2 separate regions of the Homo sapiens genome follow, and region 2 is linked to region 1. The links come from fine-mapping of genetic effects on gene expression. Tissue or cell type: neutrophils. Region 1 holds a variant in brackets; the other region holds the start of a gene. All regions are shown on one strand. Distances are from middle to middle.

Region 1 (8,104 bases):
GGGAGTGGAACTGGGGATATTAGGTAGTGGGTAGGAGAAAGATATTTGCGCATTTTAGTTTTTGCATTGTTTGACTCTTTTTTGTTTTTTGTTTTTTTTTTTGAGAGCGGAGTGCTGGAGTGCAGTGGCGGGATCTTGGCTCACTGCAGCCTTTGCCTCCTGGGTTTAAGCAATTCTTCATCTCAGCCTCCCGAGTAGCTGGGATTACAGGTGCACACCACCACACCTGGCTAATTTTTGTATTTTTGTAGAGATGGGGTTTCACCATGTTGGCCAGGCTGGTCTTGAACTCTTGACTTCGTGATCCACCCACCTCGGCCTCCCAAAGTGCTGGGATTACAGGCGTAAGCCACCATGCCTGGCCAACTCTTTTATGTATAATATTTTTGACATCATCACTGTGCCACAGCAGCTTGAAAAACAACGGCATGACCACATAATGTTGTGTCTACAGTGCTAAAAACAGAAGCTACAAGATGTTGCCAGTGGGAGAGCACTCCATGGGCTGGCATGCCCAAAGAAGGCATTGATGGAAGATGAAAGCTGGATGTGGAGCCCCAAAAAATATGTATGATTGAAATAGGTCAAGGGAAAGAGAGGTAAGGCATCCCAGAGAGGGTGACTACATCCACCAAGTCACGCCTACTTCAAAGTCATCCACAGCAACAGTTGCTAATGACACTTGACAAAGAACATTTTATTCATTCATCAAGTATCTATTGAGGATCAACTGTGTACCAGGCACTGTTGCAGGCATTCATTGTTATCATCATCATCCTCAAAAAGTATATGATTGTGTTAGTCTGGGATCCCAGAGAAACAGAACGAACACACCCAGAAATAATGTTTTACCTGCTATCTGGGCATCGTTTAGCCTAGTCAAGTCAACACATAAAATTAACCAACACTCTTATGTAGACCAATCCGTGGGGAAAAGGCATTTTCAATGCTGGTGGTAATATAAATTTGTAAACTATTTTAGAGGTCAATTCACTTCTTGAAATTGTGTCCATTTTTAATTTGGGTAGATCTTTGGACCCGGCAATCTTATTTCCAGGATTTTATGCTAAGGTCAGGGATATTCATGGAGATTTATTGACAAAGATTTACAGCAGCTTCAAATGTCCAGTAACAATAAGCAGGAAGCTAAATTGAGGTCCACCTGCATGATGGAACATTATTCCATCATTAACATTATGTTTTTGAGGCATATTTAACAAGGGAAAATGTGCACACTATTTAGTAATATCAGAAAAGCGAGTCACAGAACACTCTTTACAGTAAGATTGAAATTAGGTTTTAAATTTTAATTTGCATAAAATGACAGGAAGGATTTGCACTGAAATGTTAAGTTGAGTAGAGATATGGTAAGTCATTTTTATTTTCTTCTTTAAACCCTTTCAGTATTTTTCCATGTTTTCTATAATTGAACTATATTACACTATATTACTTTTGCAATAGAAAACAACCAACATATGGAAATCAGGACAGATAATAAGAGCCAACACTCCTATGGCTCTTCTCAGAACTGGGAGTTATTTTTTAAATATATCATCGCAAGTCACCCTCCATGTGCTGGGCGAGGTGTTCATGACAGGGAAATGAGGAGAGACCAGGCACCAGCCTTTCTTTCTGGGAGTTTCCAGTGAAAGACAAGCAATTTTATCTCACATCAAGAACTCTGCAGGAAGGAGGCCATGGTTAAGTCTGCGGTGAAGGGCAAAGAGTGAGGTAGTATTACAAGGGAAATCCCAAGAAAAGCTCCCCTCTCCACTGGATGGCTGGAGACTCCTGTTGAAAGGAGGGAGGTGACATGAGCAGGTTAGACAAGAGAGACCACGGGCCTGGGGTGGGGGGCACTCAAACCCCCAAGAGCTCCTGTTTGATATTCTAACCCAAAGGTACGGACCACAGAACTTCTCATCCTTGTTGTTCTGTGTTTTTGTTTTCCATTTAAGGTGGCTCACACCTGTAATCTCAGCACTTTGGGAGGCCGAGGTGGGTGGATCACCTGAGGTCACAAGTTCAAGACCAGCCTGGCCAACATGGAGAAACCCTACCTCTACTAAAAATACAAAAATGAGCTGGGTGTGGTGGCGCATAGCTGTAATCCCAGCTACTCAGGAGACTGAGACAGGAGAATTGCTTGAACCCAGGAGGCAAAGGCTGCAGTGAGCCAAGATCACACCACTGCACTCCAGCCTGGGAGACAGAGCAAGGAGACTCTGTCTCAAAAACAACAACAACAACTATGAACATGAGGTGGAAATTTAGGAAAATAAGGCCGTTGGAGAGGAGCAAGGCCCAGGACACCGGGAAAGGTGCTCTGGGAGGCTGCAGCCATGCGCCTCTCCTGGCCCTGCCCAGGAAGAACAGGCAGCCAAGGCTCTGCACAGCCCCAGCCTGGGGCGGACAAGCTCCAACCCAAACAGCCTGCCTGGTTTCAGGCCATTTGCTTGGGGTTGCTTTTCCTTAACTGCCTTGGAACAGTCCCCTGGAAGCCTAAATAGAATGTTCTAGAAGATATGGTCATTGCTTCCTAAGGTTTTGAATCTTTCCATCAGCAAATCATGGCCCTGCCCAGGAGCTGAGATGGAGCAGACATGGCAAGGGAGGCTGAGCTCCGCTGAGAGGGTAGAACCACTTCTGGGTGAGAGGTCAGAGGGGAGTGGGCGAGAGAAGTGGAGAGACACAGAGAGATAGAGAGATACAGAGAGAGAGACACACAGAGAGATAGAGAGATACAGAGGGAGAGAGACACAGAGAGAGAGAGAGGGACAGAGACACACACGGAGAGAGAAAGAGACAGAGATACAAAGAGAGAGAGAGACACAGAGAGAGAGAGAAGGAAAGACAGAGAAACAGTGAGAGAAAGACACAGAGGGAGAGAGACAGAGAGACACAGAGGGAGACAGAGACACAGAGAGACAGAGAGAGAGACAGAGAGATACAGAGGGAGAGAGACCAGAGAGACAGAGGGAGACAGAGAGAGAGGGAGAGACAGAGACACAGAGAGAGACAGACACAGAGGGAGAGAGAGACAGAGAGAGATGGAAAGACAGAGAGAGACAGAGAGAGACCAAAAGACAAAGAGAGAGACAGAAGGAGAAAGAGACAGAGAGAGAGAGGGAGAGACAGAGAGA[C/CAG]AGAGAGAGAGAGAGAGAGAGAGACAGAGAGGGAAAGAGATAGAAAGCCAGAAACAGAGAGACAGAGAGAGACGAAGAGACACAGAGGGAGGAAGAGACAGAGAAAGAGAGAGAGACGGGGGGGGGAGAGACAGAGAGAGATATACCAAGAGACAGAGAGAGAGAGAGACAGAAAGAGAGAGAAAGAGGGAGAGGCAGAGAGAGAAAGAGTGACAGACAGAGAGAGAGGAAAGACGAAGAAGAAAAGAGGCGGGGAGTGAAGGGAAGGGGAGCTGAGGAGGGGAAGGAAGAGAAACCAGAGGACCAGGGCAGGAAAGTGGGGGAGCAAGAGAAGAAGTGGGGAAAGATTCTTATTTCCAGTGAGGTGTTAAAAACTACCTCATGTTTTTGGAGCAAGTTCCCAAACAAATGTTCTAGACTGAACCCAGCTTCACTCACTGAAATGAGATTCACGTTAACCAACAAGCTAAATGACTCTGCTTACTTGAAGGTAGCAAAGCTTTTATATGCTTTATTTGGCAGAATGTCATCACTGCCAAGATATTTCGTCTGTGACTCCAGAATACACTGTGACACAAACACCAAAAACAACACAATTCACACATACACACGTATCATATGTGTGTGTGTATATATATATATATATCTTGTGTGTATATATATATGTATGTATATATCTTGTATATATAAAAGATCTTGTGTTTCACAGCCAAGTGGTATTTGCAGTGGGTTCTTGGCCCAGCCCTTGATGATCTGATGTCTTGTTTTCTATGTGAAAATAATAAGCCAATAGTCATTGGTTTTCTTGAATTAATTTGCTTAAGGAGAAAAATTGCACATTCTATTTAATACCTCATTCTGTACTTATAAACATTACAACAAGCAAACTCCAAAGACAAGTAAAATTGAACTACTGTAAAGACTCTGTATATAAATTATTTTACTCTATGTCCCTTATTCATATAGGACATTAAAAATACTTTTCACAACTAAGTTTTGTCCTTTAAAAAGGCTTGTCAAAACAACATCACTAAGGACTTGAGTATTTTGTTATATGTGTACAATAAAATTAGACCCTTTTTTGTATTTGAGACTATCAGCTGTACTTTGTGATCCTCTTGATCTTGTGCCAAACTAAATTCAATTTCAAAGCAATCAAAGGCAAAATTTAGTGCATAATAGGAAGTCTTACTAAAATTGTGAGAGGTGTCTTCCCGAATAGAAACATTGGTGATAAAAAAATGACAACCCCAAAATATGGCACTTGGTAGCTGAGATGTTGCAGAAATGCTGTCCATCCCTCCTATCTGTCTTCAGGAAGGGAGGGCTACCCCTGGTCCTCTGCCCACTTCCTCATGAATTTCTTGGCGAGCTGTTGCCTAAGTTTGGATCAGTTCCACTGGGCAACCAGCCTGCCCTGCTCCCAGGCCTGACGACTCACAGCAAAACCTCCCAACGCGTGCCTCCTCCATGGGTGCCCGGCACCCCCCAGCCAAAGCCATCAAGCCTGCACAGACCTGGGTGGGAGGCTGAGCACTGACAAACATGCTCTCCTTAGCCAAACTCCAGCCGGGCTCCTCAGAGCCCCTTCTCGACTAAGCCTCAGTCTTGGCCTAAAGACTCCAACAAACACTAACATAGTTTCTAATGGCTCAAGGCCACATGCCTATGCCTACGATGACCTCCTGAAAGTGCCTGCCTGAGAAAACTCAAGGCTGCCAAAAGCATTTACTGCTTGTTCCAGCCAACACCTGAAGACAAAACCCCCATCTCCCCATCTCTGTGGGAAGGTAGAAACCAAACTTCAAACTTCGATAAGCATCTTAGCAAACCCAGATGGCTCCACATAAGCCAAACCTCTCCCTACTGCTTTTTGCAATTTTCACACTTCTTTGACTCTACTGAGTCCCCACTCACCCCCACTCACTCATTCTCCTTTTAAAACAACCAGTCATGTCTGCACAAATCAGAGTTGAGTCCAGTTCATGCCAGGCTCTCTTCTCTACTGCAATAGCTACTGCTGAATAAAATCTGCCCTGACCCCTTTGACCAGGGTCCAGCTTTGTTTACCTTTGACAGCACACAGCAGTCCAACTTCAGACACATAAGAGGCTTTGCCCAGAGATTGGGCTGGGCCATGTTGGGGCAGGCACTTGGTCCTTTCTGTTCTCACTTCTGTGTCTACACAGCACATTAGCCAGTGTCCAGGTAAAGATCTACCCTCACCCCATGGCATGACTCATGTCTGTGACCAACAGAGGCCCACAAGATATGTTCTAGTGCAACACAGCCAACCCGGGAGCCCCTGGGTGGTGGCTGCAAAGGGGGGCCTACTGGCCTGCCCCACCACCACCTCTACCCAGGGAGACCAAGACCCTCACCTCTCATTTCCGTGGCTGAGGAGCCATTGGACCAGGCCGTCCACTTGTTCCTGTGCCTGCTGATTTCCTGGACTCTGCAGACGTAATGCCCTTGATCGGAGGGCTGCAGTGTCAAGACGGAGAGCCTGTAGAGCGCCCCCCGCTGCTCCTCCAGCAGGCGCAGCCTCCGCCGTTTGGCGCTGCGGCTGAAATTCCCATAGTACTGCACCACCCGGAGCTTGGTCATCTTCACCATCAAGGCCTCCTGGGAGTCGAAGGAGTGTGCAAAGAACCAGCGCACGGCCAGCAAGCTGTCCTTCCGCCTTTTCTGGGAGACGTGGCAGAGGAGAGTGGCATTCTCCCCCTCCAGGTAGTCAACCACGGGCCCCGGGGACACAGTGACATTGAGGGCCGCACAGACCTCTGCAGAGAAAAAGGGGAGAAGAGAGGATGAGGAGGGCCCCAAGTCCCCCTGTGGGCAGTCCACAGTCGAGGAGCCAGGAAATGCCTCCACGCACTGGGCATCCTAGTGCTCTGCCTGGCCAGAGAAGCAGGCGGCCCCTCACCTCTCCAGAGGAGGGGTTCTTCTGGGGGTGAGCCTCTGTGGGCCCCCACTGTCTCATCTATGGGACCACCCTGTCCATGTGGGATGCTAAACAATGACCTCCTGACCCAGAAGTATTTTTCAAAATTTTGTAATTAGTTGCTGACGTTTAAAATTCAAATTTCATGTAAAAGATTTAGATTTTTGGAATTTCTTAAAAATGTCTAGCCCACATCCAACCCCCCACCACTCCCCACACCTCACCACCTGGCCCCTGCCCCTCCCCAAGGCCTACTTTTATCAGTTTTGTCCCTGGCCTGATGTCAGCTGTGCTGTGGGTGGGGAGCCGCCCTGGAGCAGGGCAGGGTAGGGCCCTCTCTCTGGTGGCCTGTCCACCAGGAAGCTGGGCCCCTTTCCCTGACTCCGCTATTTCAACTGTACCCAGGGCAGATGAGTAGTAAGGTCGGATGTGAGCTGGGACAACAGGGGTTGCTTGGTTTCCTATTTGTAGGATCCATCGTCTCAGAGTTGAAGAGCAAGAATAAAGAATGATTAAACCCCAGGAAGAGGAGGGATGAGAGACTCTCCCAACAACCCAAAAGACACTTTGGAATTCCAGGCCCCATCCACAACTTCCTGTCCTTTGGTTCCTTAGTTAAAACCAGCCCGAGGGCTGCCCACTCCCAGCCACTGTTCTGCCCCTGAGCTGACCTGTGATGGAGCCACCCCAGCGCCCACTCCACCACCCAGACCAGTAGACCTCAGAGAGGCCGACTGCTGAAGTCTTCTCCCAGGAGCCACGATTCATGGTGTACCCTGGACTGCCCAGTGCGACCAGGCTGCCCGGTGCTCACAGCACAGCCCTCTGGCAGGCAGGGCCCGAGAAAAGATGCTTTGCACAGGATGCCTGGAACCTCTTTCTGCCAAGTCAGGGCTGTCTTCTCACCAGGTTCCATGTCCCCACCCCTGTACTGCCCCATGTATCACTCCAGGAAGCCATTCGCCTCCACCCCCCCACACAAGCAGGTGTCCCCATGGTCATCCCAAAGCACAGCTTTCAGTCCCAAAATGCCACCATCTGGTAACAGAAGAGGGCTTGGGCCCCAGATGTCACAGCCACCAAAACCTTTGACCCCTGGGCAGTGCTGCAGGGAAGCAAGGAGGAAAGTGGAAAAACAGATCAAGCAAGATCTGAACATTTGACAAGGAGGCTGTGGAGCAGCAAGCAGGCGGCCCTGCGGTGGGCTGGGGGAGGGATGGTAGATACAAACTATTCTTCATTGTAAAAATCCAGGCAACAGGTCTTCCTCCTATACAGTTTCCACTATTGATTTAATAACTGAACACCTCAAGACAGATGATTTCAGGATCATTTTTCCTTAATTTTCTTTCTCATCTCTCAGAAGACAAGCACTAGCCCACAGGATATTCAAGGGTAATTCCATGAGCCTTGACTTCATCACACCCATAAAGTCCCTTTTGTCATATAACGTTCCATTCACAGGTCCCCAGGGATTAAAACACCAAAGTCTTTGATATATATGGAAGTGAGCTCAGAAGAAAAAGGGTTAAGGCTCAGCTGGACTCTCCGCTGGATGGGTATGAGGTCTTCTATGCCTACAGTGATGCGGGAGATACTTAGGGCTGCAGACTAATGTGTAGCCAAAGGAGGGACCCACTCTGGTAGCAATCCCGCTGTCATCAGAAGCCCCTCCTGCAAGGCAAATGAAGAGGAATTGGCCCCACAATTCCCCCTGCATCTCGCCCACCTGGCAGGCACCTGGCCCATGGGCCATGTTAAATTAGTCAGAAGACATTTCTTCCTCACTGCTGAAGCCCTGTGTGAAGTCCACACAGCTCCCACGGCAGGAGCTCCCTGGTGAGGAATGCAGCAGCTGGGGGACACTGGCTGACCCAGCTCCAACAGCTGCTGGGGTTGGGCAGCCACAGAGAGCAGCAACGATGCAGCAGCTGGCTTCCAGAACTGAAGTCCAGCCCCACCCCGCCCTCAAGAGCTTCCCAGTGGAGGCCAGGAGAGCTGAGGAAGGCAGGAAATT
Region 2 (8,104 bases), 82 kb after region 1:
GGTTCAGACATATTAAATGGGTACAGAATAGACATAGAATATGTTTGCAATATAGAATCATTGCAAAGCAAAGAAAGGAAAGATCATTACACAGGTGATATTGCAACAACTGATGTCCCATACAGAAAACATTAAAATTAGATCCTTTCTTTAGGCCGTAAATAAAAATAAATTCCAAATAAATTAAAGACCTAATCATAAAAAATGCAACCACTTTAAAGTAAAAATAACTTTTTAAAATGCTTCTTAACACAGAAAAACCAAGCACACAAAAAGGAAAAGACCAATAAATGTGATTACATCACGCTGAAAGACTTCTCACAACAAAGGAAGCCACAAAGATAAAAGATAAGCAACATACTGAGAGAAGATATTTGGAACACATGAAACATACAAATAATTAATATCCAGAATACTACATAAAAGACCAATAATCAAATACAACTTGGGAGAAAGGTATATAAAATCAGAAATCTACAGAAAAGGAGAATGGGCTGTCTGATAATGCAGAGAAAGTAGTTATTCCTAGTAGTGATTAGGAACACACAAACTAAAATAAAAACTTTGAGATAAAATTTTATACCTCTCTAATTGTCAAGAATTGAGAAGTTGGGCAGTATCAAGTATTACTGAGTATGTAAGGAACAGATATGGCCACAACCCCCTGGTGGAGAGCAATTTGGCAATATCCAACAAAAGGAGAATTGACACGACATTTCCCCTGCCAGGGGTGTCTGCTAGAAAACCAGCTGCAGGTGGGTTCCAGGAGGTGGGGCGAGAGGGCTCATCGAAGCCTCAGCCATCAGGCTGCAAGTTAGAGACAACCTAAATTCTGACAGTATGGGAATGGATAAATAATCAGATAAATGGCAGTGTTTCTGTGGAAACTTGTAGAGTAGTTGGGATGAATGCATTTGACCCATATTATCAGAACGGGTAGATAATGCAACGTGTTCAGTATGCTATGGCGGATTCCTGCAGTTTTTAACAGCTGCAAAGTAACCCAGGAAGGAAGCACAGCCAACCCTGGGGTGCCTCTCCCTCTGGGGAGGGAGGAAAACAAGAGGAGGAAGAGAGCCAAACTCCACCTCTTATGTTCTGTTTCTCTGATGGATACATTGATTTAGCTACCTACCTTTAAATATATATCTAGAAAAAAATTTAACATTTGGTAATTCAGAGTGTTGGCTCCATAAATGTCTGTTCCATTAATCTCAGTGTTTGAAAATATTTAAAGAATATTCAAATACTGTTTCTTTAAAAACTTTCTACCTACTCTGTGTGTGGGAAAGACTGGCCTGGCTTCTCATCCCAGGGTCCCCCGGTCATACTTGGGATCCTGGATGCCACAGAGGGACTGGACAGAGAGTGCCCCCATAGCCCCCAAGTCCCCTGAGGTACAGTTCTCATACACCCTGGGTGACTGGCCTGGTCACCCACCCTCACAGACCCCCATCTGCCAGTAGATTGCACTAAACAGTGCTCTAGGCCCCTTTCTCCAGTCAATAAAGGGGAAGCCCAACGTTTCCTTCATTTGCTTTCAACAGGCTGTCATATTCGCTTTTTGTTCACAAACATTTACTTACTGGAATTAACAACATATACAATCATTATGAAAAATGCCAATACAGAGAAATTAAGATGCTGTATAATTCTTTTTCCTAAGAAGATAAAGGATAGCCGGGCACGGTGGCTCACGCCTGTAATCCCAGCACTTTTGGAGGCCGAGGTGGGCGGAACACCTGAGGTCAGGAGTTCAAGACCAGCTTGGCCAACATGGAGAAGCCGCATCTCTACTAAAAATACAAAATTAGCCAGGTGCGGGGGCATGTGCCTGTAATCCCAGCTACTCGGGAGGCTGAGGCAGGTGAATTGCTTGAACCCAGGAGGTGGAGGTTGCGGTGAGCCGAGATCGCGCCATTGCACTCCAGCCTGGGCAACAAGAGCAAAATTCCATCTCAAGAAGAAGAAGGAGGAGGAGGAAGAGGAGGAGGAGGAGGAAGAAGAAGAAGAAGAAAAAGAAGAAGAAGAAGAGGAAGAAGAAGAAGAGGAAGAAGAAGAAGAAGAAGAAGAAGAAGAAGAAGAAGAAGAGGAAGAAGAAGAAAAAGAGGAAGAAGAAGGAGACTAAACACATGCAAAATATTACTACGGAACTCTAACCTGTAACTATCACTTCATCACTTCTGTTTCATCCGTGTCAGCTCATAGAAAGGCATGTCTTTCAACTAAATATATTGGATATTGTTGGAAATACTAAAGCATAATTAACTTAGTCAAATTCCTACTGATAGTCTCTTGTTTCTGGTTCCCACCGTGGTTTCGGCAGTGTTGAATAATACCCTGTGAAATATTTTGGGAGGGTTTTACCATATTATTTCATCAGGTTATATTCCTGGAGGTGGAATTTCTGGGTGAAGGGTTATGAACATCTTACATTTCGCTTACATTGACACCCAGATTTTGCCAAATTGCCCTCTGGAGAGAGTGAATAAATGAGTCCCCTCATATCCAATAGTGAGTGCTCACCACTTATCACATCCCATGCTAAGTGCTTTAAATGTGGTAACAGATTTCATTTTCCCAATAGTCCTGTGAGGTGTCCCCAACTTACAGATGAGAAAACTGGGCACAGAGAGGATTAATTCTTTGTCCAAGTTTTCCAGGCTGGTAAACAACAGAACAGGGATGAACATTTAAGGAGTCTCGTACTGGATACCCACTCCTAACCACTGTGTACCTCTATCAATAGTATATGAAAGCAGAAACGAGCTGTGATGCCTTGGCCCAGTGATTAAAACCTTATCTATAACATGCAGGTAATTGTGGCACCTATTGCACAGAGTTGCTGTGGGAACCAAATGAGCTCATGTAACATCTTCAGCAGAGCACCCAGCACATCGACACACTAAAAAATGCGAGGAGGTGTTAGATCTTTTATTATTTGTGAGACTGGACATTTTAAAGTTTTATTGTCTGTGATTCTTCAATGAATTGCCTGTTTATATAATTTGCACATTTTTCATTGGATTTCTTAAATTTAACTTCCTTTTTTTGTACCAGGACAGACTAGTTTGTTTATCTAGGTAAGTCAAAAGCAGAAATAAGGGTTACAACTTCTCTTACCTTCCACCACGTCTCTGGGCAGGCACACTGCATCTAACCACCGTGCACACCCTTAATCGCTGCTTGCTGGTGCCTGACATCCCTTCACAGTCACTGCCAACGGCCCGTTTCCATGTGTAAACTGATGGATGATGTGGCTGGCTGTCTGTCTGACATGCTGACTCCCAAGGCCAAAGTCTTTGCTCTCCCCTGCTTAGTGCAGACTTTAGATGGAAACCTGCCCACAGCACTAACTTTGCCCGCATTCAGGATACAACCTATTGGTCTGGAGACACAAGATTTAATCTGGAGACAGACTGCTTCCCATTGAGTCTCGGCCCAGTGCAAGTTCTGGGAAGGAACGTCTTTGTATATATGAGGGACGTATGCTGCCTTTTTAGGAAACAACAGTTGATATCAGAGGGGACTTCGTAAAGGCATGTGTCTCTCTCCATCTCTGTCTCCATCTATGCATATTTCTAACCATCTCTCTATGTCTCTGTCTGTCTCTCTCTCTCTCTCTTTGAGTTTCTTCCTCTCTGTCTACTTCTCTGACTTTATATTTCTCTCCTCCATTTGGCCCTACTTTGTTTTAGTCTTTGCCTCTCTCCTTTCTTCCTTCTTTCAAGGAATGCATTAAAGATAATTTTTAAAAACAAAGATACCTCTGAGTAGCAAAGAGTCTGCTTCACTGCATGAGAATTCTGATTCAACATTAAATGTATACCAGTATCTACATGCCTACATGTTCTCATTCTATGTCAGTATTTTGATTTGACTTAATTAAATTTAACTTAACTCTCTTGAAATCCCAAAAAGTAAACATGATTATCTCCCATCTCATTGGTTCAGAAAGTTAGGGAGTTTCAGAAGCTTATTCTAGTTTATCAGCAATGGAGCCACAGTTTACACCCAGATGTTTCTAGATCCCAAGCCCGAAGCTCCTTCTGCCATGACCCTTCCTATTCTCCTTTAGCCCAGAAGCATTTGTAAGTTGCAGCTGGAATGAGACAAACAAGATCATTGCTCACTACCAGATCAAAGTGAGAAACATCATCTGTGTAAAGGGACAGAGTTATGTTTTAGGGATCAAGCCCCAGTGGGCTAAGGCTCCCCCAGTTTCCTGCCCACTGAGGCTCCCCCGGGCCAGAGACCCCCGCAGTCCCCACTTACCCAGGAGGAAGAGGATCCTCAGCATGCTGACCCCCAAGTTCATGCTGGCGCTCTGCTCTTGGCTCCTGGCTCCTGGCTGCTGGCAGCGCAGGCACAATGAGCCATGTGACCCAAGGCTCTGGGGACAGGACAAGACCCACGTGACTGATGGGGAAGGAAACCACTGTCACAGCCAGGAGGCTGTTCAGTTCCTCTCAGCCTCTCTGAAGACAGGGCTGAAGGAAGCCCCTGTCATTCTGGACTCCACCAGAAGCTGGCTGTGATTAGACCCATTGTACATGCTGGGGTATTATACCCAGTGTTCTCTCCTATAATCTTCCCCACAGAGTGTGGGAACAAAGCTCGGTAAGGTGCGGTTTCTTGCCTAATGACCCATGCTAGTAAGTCTCAGAGAGGAATGTGGGCAAAGCCGGTCTGCCCTGCAGTCCAGCCCTTGCAGTAGCCTCTGCCTTGGAGCAGAAATAGGAAATGCCCCTCCAGCCAATAGTCCAGCTCGGTCACTGTTTTTGTGCCATGGGAGCCTCTGAGTCTAGGAATGCCTATCACTCTCTTCTCAGAATAAGATTTTTAAATCCCCAAACTAAAATAGATAAGGATCATAGTAGAAATCAGTAGTATTAACACACAGTTATCAAAATATTTTGTTAAACTTGTGAAGTAGAAATATACATGCTTATTTATCCACACAGTAAATAGCAAGATCTGGCAGCAGATGAAACAGCTACCACCATCTCGACATGGTGATAAATGGAATCGATATTGAGAGATACCTGTAACAGCTGGAATGTGGATGGAAAGACCTGTGATTCCTACCAGAAATAAAGTTACTGGGTGGTAATGTTTCTGTGGTTCGTTTGCCACACTACTATTAGAAGAAGATGCTAAGTGTTCCTTAGAGGTTAGAGAACAGAGATGTAATTTTTTTCCCATCCAAGTTTACAGGCCCCATGTCCAGGTCCTTAGCCTGGAGGAACTTTGGTAGTCACACAGGCTCAGCCAGCAGGCTGAAGGCCTTATGCTCCTGTACTCCTTTATACCTGCACGTTGTCACAATGCTTAGATGTTCAGCCAAAAACCCAAATGTGCAGGAAATGTCACTTTTTAAAATATAAATCAACTTAATGACAAGTCTTGAGTCCCCCACCCAACTGAGCTGGCAGAAATCGAGCTCTTTTCATTCTTGGGCTCCCTCAGTCAAATCCCTAACGGTAGCAGCCAACACCGTGAGCACTTGCTACTGAGCCCAATGCCATCTTAGCATGCAACCTGTCCAAGTCCACGCAGCAGTAAATGTGAGAGCTGGACTCGAAACCCAGGCCTTTGGCTGGCAGCCTATGCCCCTCAGGCTGCATGTGCCCTCTGTGTACAGGTACCATCCCCTGCCAAGGTCCAGCCAGAGGCAGTCCGATTGCCCTGGTGCCACAGATGCCCCCTGGGTTCTTCTGCATGGCTGCTGTGGCTCCTTCTGAGTTTCACATAAATAATGGACATGAGAGGAGAAGGCTGGTCATGAGAGAAGCAATTGGCTTCATCTGGGTGCCTTCAAGTTCCATCTGTCCACACTTTATTCATTTGATGAAATTAAGATCAGTTTCTACCTGCACCAAGAAACATACTCTCTTATTTCTCCTGGAATATGTGGAGTTTTCTTAATTTTGCCCCAGTTCATGGGAACATGTGTAAGAAAAATATTTCACTTTCCTCTAAGTGTATTGAAAGAAAATGCCAGTGCAGACCTGACAATCTGTAGACAGTGGCTGGGGACGGTGGAGCTACATTCAGGCCAGGCCCAGGGCTTCCAGCCACACCAGGCAGTTCTGTTTTTATATGAAATCAATAAGTTTCAAATGTCGGCAACTGATTTCAAAATACTTTCGCATGGGATGAGTCAACCTAAACACCAGCATGAACTTCTGCTCCCAAACACCTCTCCAAACATCCTTGGGAGCTCGACCTGTCCTACATACTCCCAGGAGGGGAAGCATCTGCAGCTACTTCTGCTTTCACTCTGCCGTAGCCTCCGAGTCTGGAAAATGCAGTCTGCTCCCTGCTTAGACAGGCAGAGGCTCAAAACGCCCCGTAAACTAGAATCTCACGAGATGCCCTGGCACCCAGCCACGGCACCTTGGCAAGATGGTGTGTGTCTTGTTGGCGTGGCACAATGCACCCAGAAGAGCGGATGCCCCACCCTGTACCCCTGTAATGAACGCCCAGTTCTGACCGTGAGGCTGCTCCTGGCACTGGCTCACACTGGCCCAGGAGCTTGTGAGGGCAGGGCCCAGGGCACCTGGCCTAGCACCTGACACAGTGCAGGCTCCTAGCGGTGTTTGTTGAATGAAGAATTCAATTCACCCCATCTATTTGGGAGGCTGAGGCAGGAGAATCGCCTGAACCCGGGAGGCAGAGGTTGCAGTGAGCCGAGATTGCGCCACTGCACTCCAGCCTGGGCGACAAGAGTGAAACTCTGTCTCAAAAAAAAAAAAAAAAAAGAAGTCGTTTCACTTTCTTATCTCATGCTCAGCCGGCCTAGCCTCCAGCCCACCTGGCAGGAATATTTTCCAGGTCATCTAGGTGAGGAAGGTCACTGCACTGACAAGCAGAAAAGAATGAGCCCCACTCCGGCAGCTCTGACATCCTGCCCCTCACTCGGATGTGGGGCCTCTTCCAAGGCCACCAAGCCTGGGACTCTTCTGTCCTTAGCACTGCACCCTCAGGACCAGCCAGGGAGCTCGTAGAATTCATGTCTCATGTGAACGCCTTTAGTGCAAGTCACAAAAAACTGCCAAACACCATCATTACGCATCAGATTTTTACAAATTTAAAGATAGGGAGGATTCAGCACGCAGATTTGTTTATTGGCCTTACATAGAACTGTGCACCCAACAATTAGAAAATAGCCATTCAATTCAGCATGCATGCAACATTTATACCCCAAAACGGTCTCACACTGGGCCATAATACAAGTCTCAAAAATTTCAAAGAAAAGGTGACATATAGACCATATTTTCTTACCACAAGGTAATTGAATTAAACGACAGTAACAAAAATACATGATAGAAATTTCCATTGGTTTGGAAATTTTAAAACATTTCTAAGTAACTCATAGATCAAAGAAAAAATTACAGTGAAAATTACAAATAGCTGGAACTGAATGATAATGAAAATGTTGCACATGTGATTTTGCAGAATGCAAGCCGGGTAATAATTAAAAGGAAATGCATAGATGTAAATACTTAGAAAAGAAGAACTGAAAAAGGAATGAGATAAGCAACCAGTCAGAGAAGTTTGAAAAAATTATAAGCCCAGAAAAAAGGCAGAAGAAAGGAAGCAATAAATATGAGAGCAAAAATGAATGAACCAGAAGCAAGCAAAGATACAATGGGGAGGATAAACACATCTTAAAAGTTTTTTCTGAAAAAACTAATAATATGAAAAATTCCTCACAGAATGGATTTAAAAAGAGAGAAGACAAAAATAAATAATATTAAGAATAAATAAGTCCAAAAAGGTAGCAATAATGGCATTATTTGCAATCTTATGCCAATGAATTTGAAAACTTTGATGAAATGGACACAATCTCAGGAAAGTGTAACTTACTGAAATGTGCTAGACAAAAACAGCAAGACAGAAAGGTCCTGATGCCTTTCAAAAGATTGAATCAAATAGTTAAAAATCTTGCCACAAAGAAAATATCATTCCAAACTATTTTACAGAATTTTACAAAAATTTTAGAAACTTTAAGGACTAGGAAATTACAATATTAACAAACTAGTTCAGATAATAGAAATAAAATGAGTATTTTCTGACTGTTCTGTGGGTCTAGGATAAT

Evidence for each region. PIP is the estimated chance that this variant, and not a neighbour inherited with it, causes the effect.
Region 2: TMEM273 starts here. The variant in region 1 is fine-mapped to the expression of TMEM273 in neutrophils (BLUEPRINT, PIP 0.95).

What each region holds. Positions count from the first base shown.
Region 1 is chr10:49,102,070-49,110,173 of GRCh38, forward strand. VSTM4 (V-set and transmembrane domain containing 4) reads right to left here. Exons shown (of 8, transcript NM_001031746.5): 2 at 5,525-5,926. Among named protein-coding and RNA genes, the nearest start is that of VSTM4, 9.4 kb to the right of the region's middle. RefSeq lists an enhancer at 6,459-7,437. The variant C/CAG (reference allele first, on the strand shown) is at 3,144.
Region 2 is chr10:49,184,019-49,192,122 of GRCh38, forward strand. TMEM273 (transmembrane protein 273) reads right to left here and starts at 4,373. Exons shown (of 7, transcript NM_001288740.3): 1 at 4,276-4,373. The coding sequence starts at 4,318. RefSeq lists enhancers at 6,202-6,361, 6,822-7,041.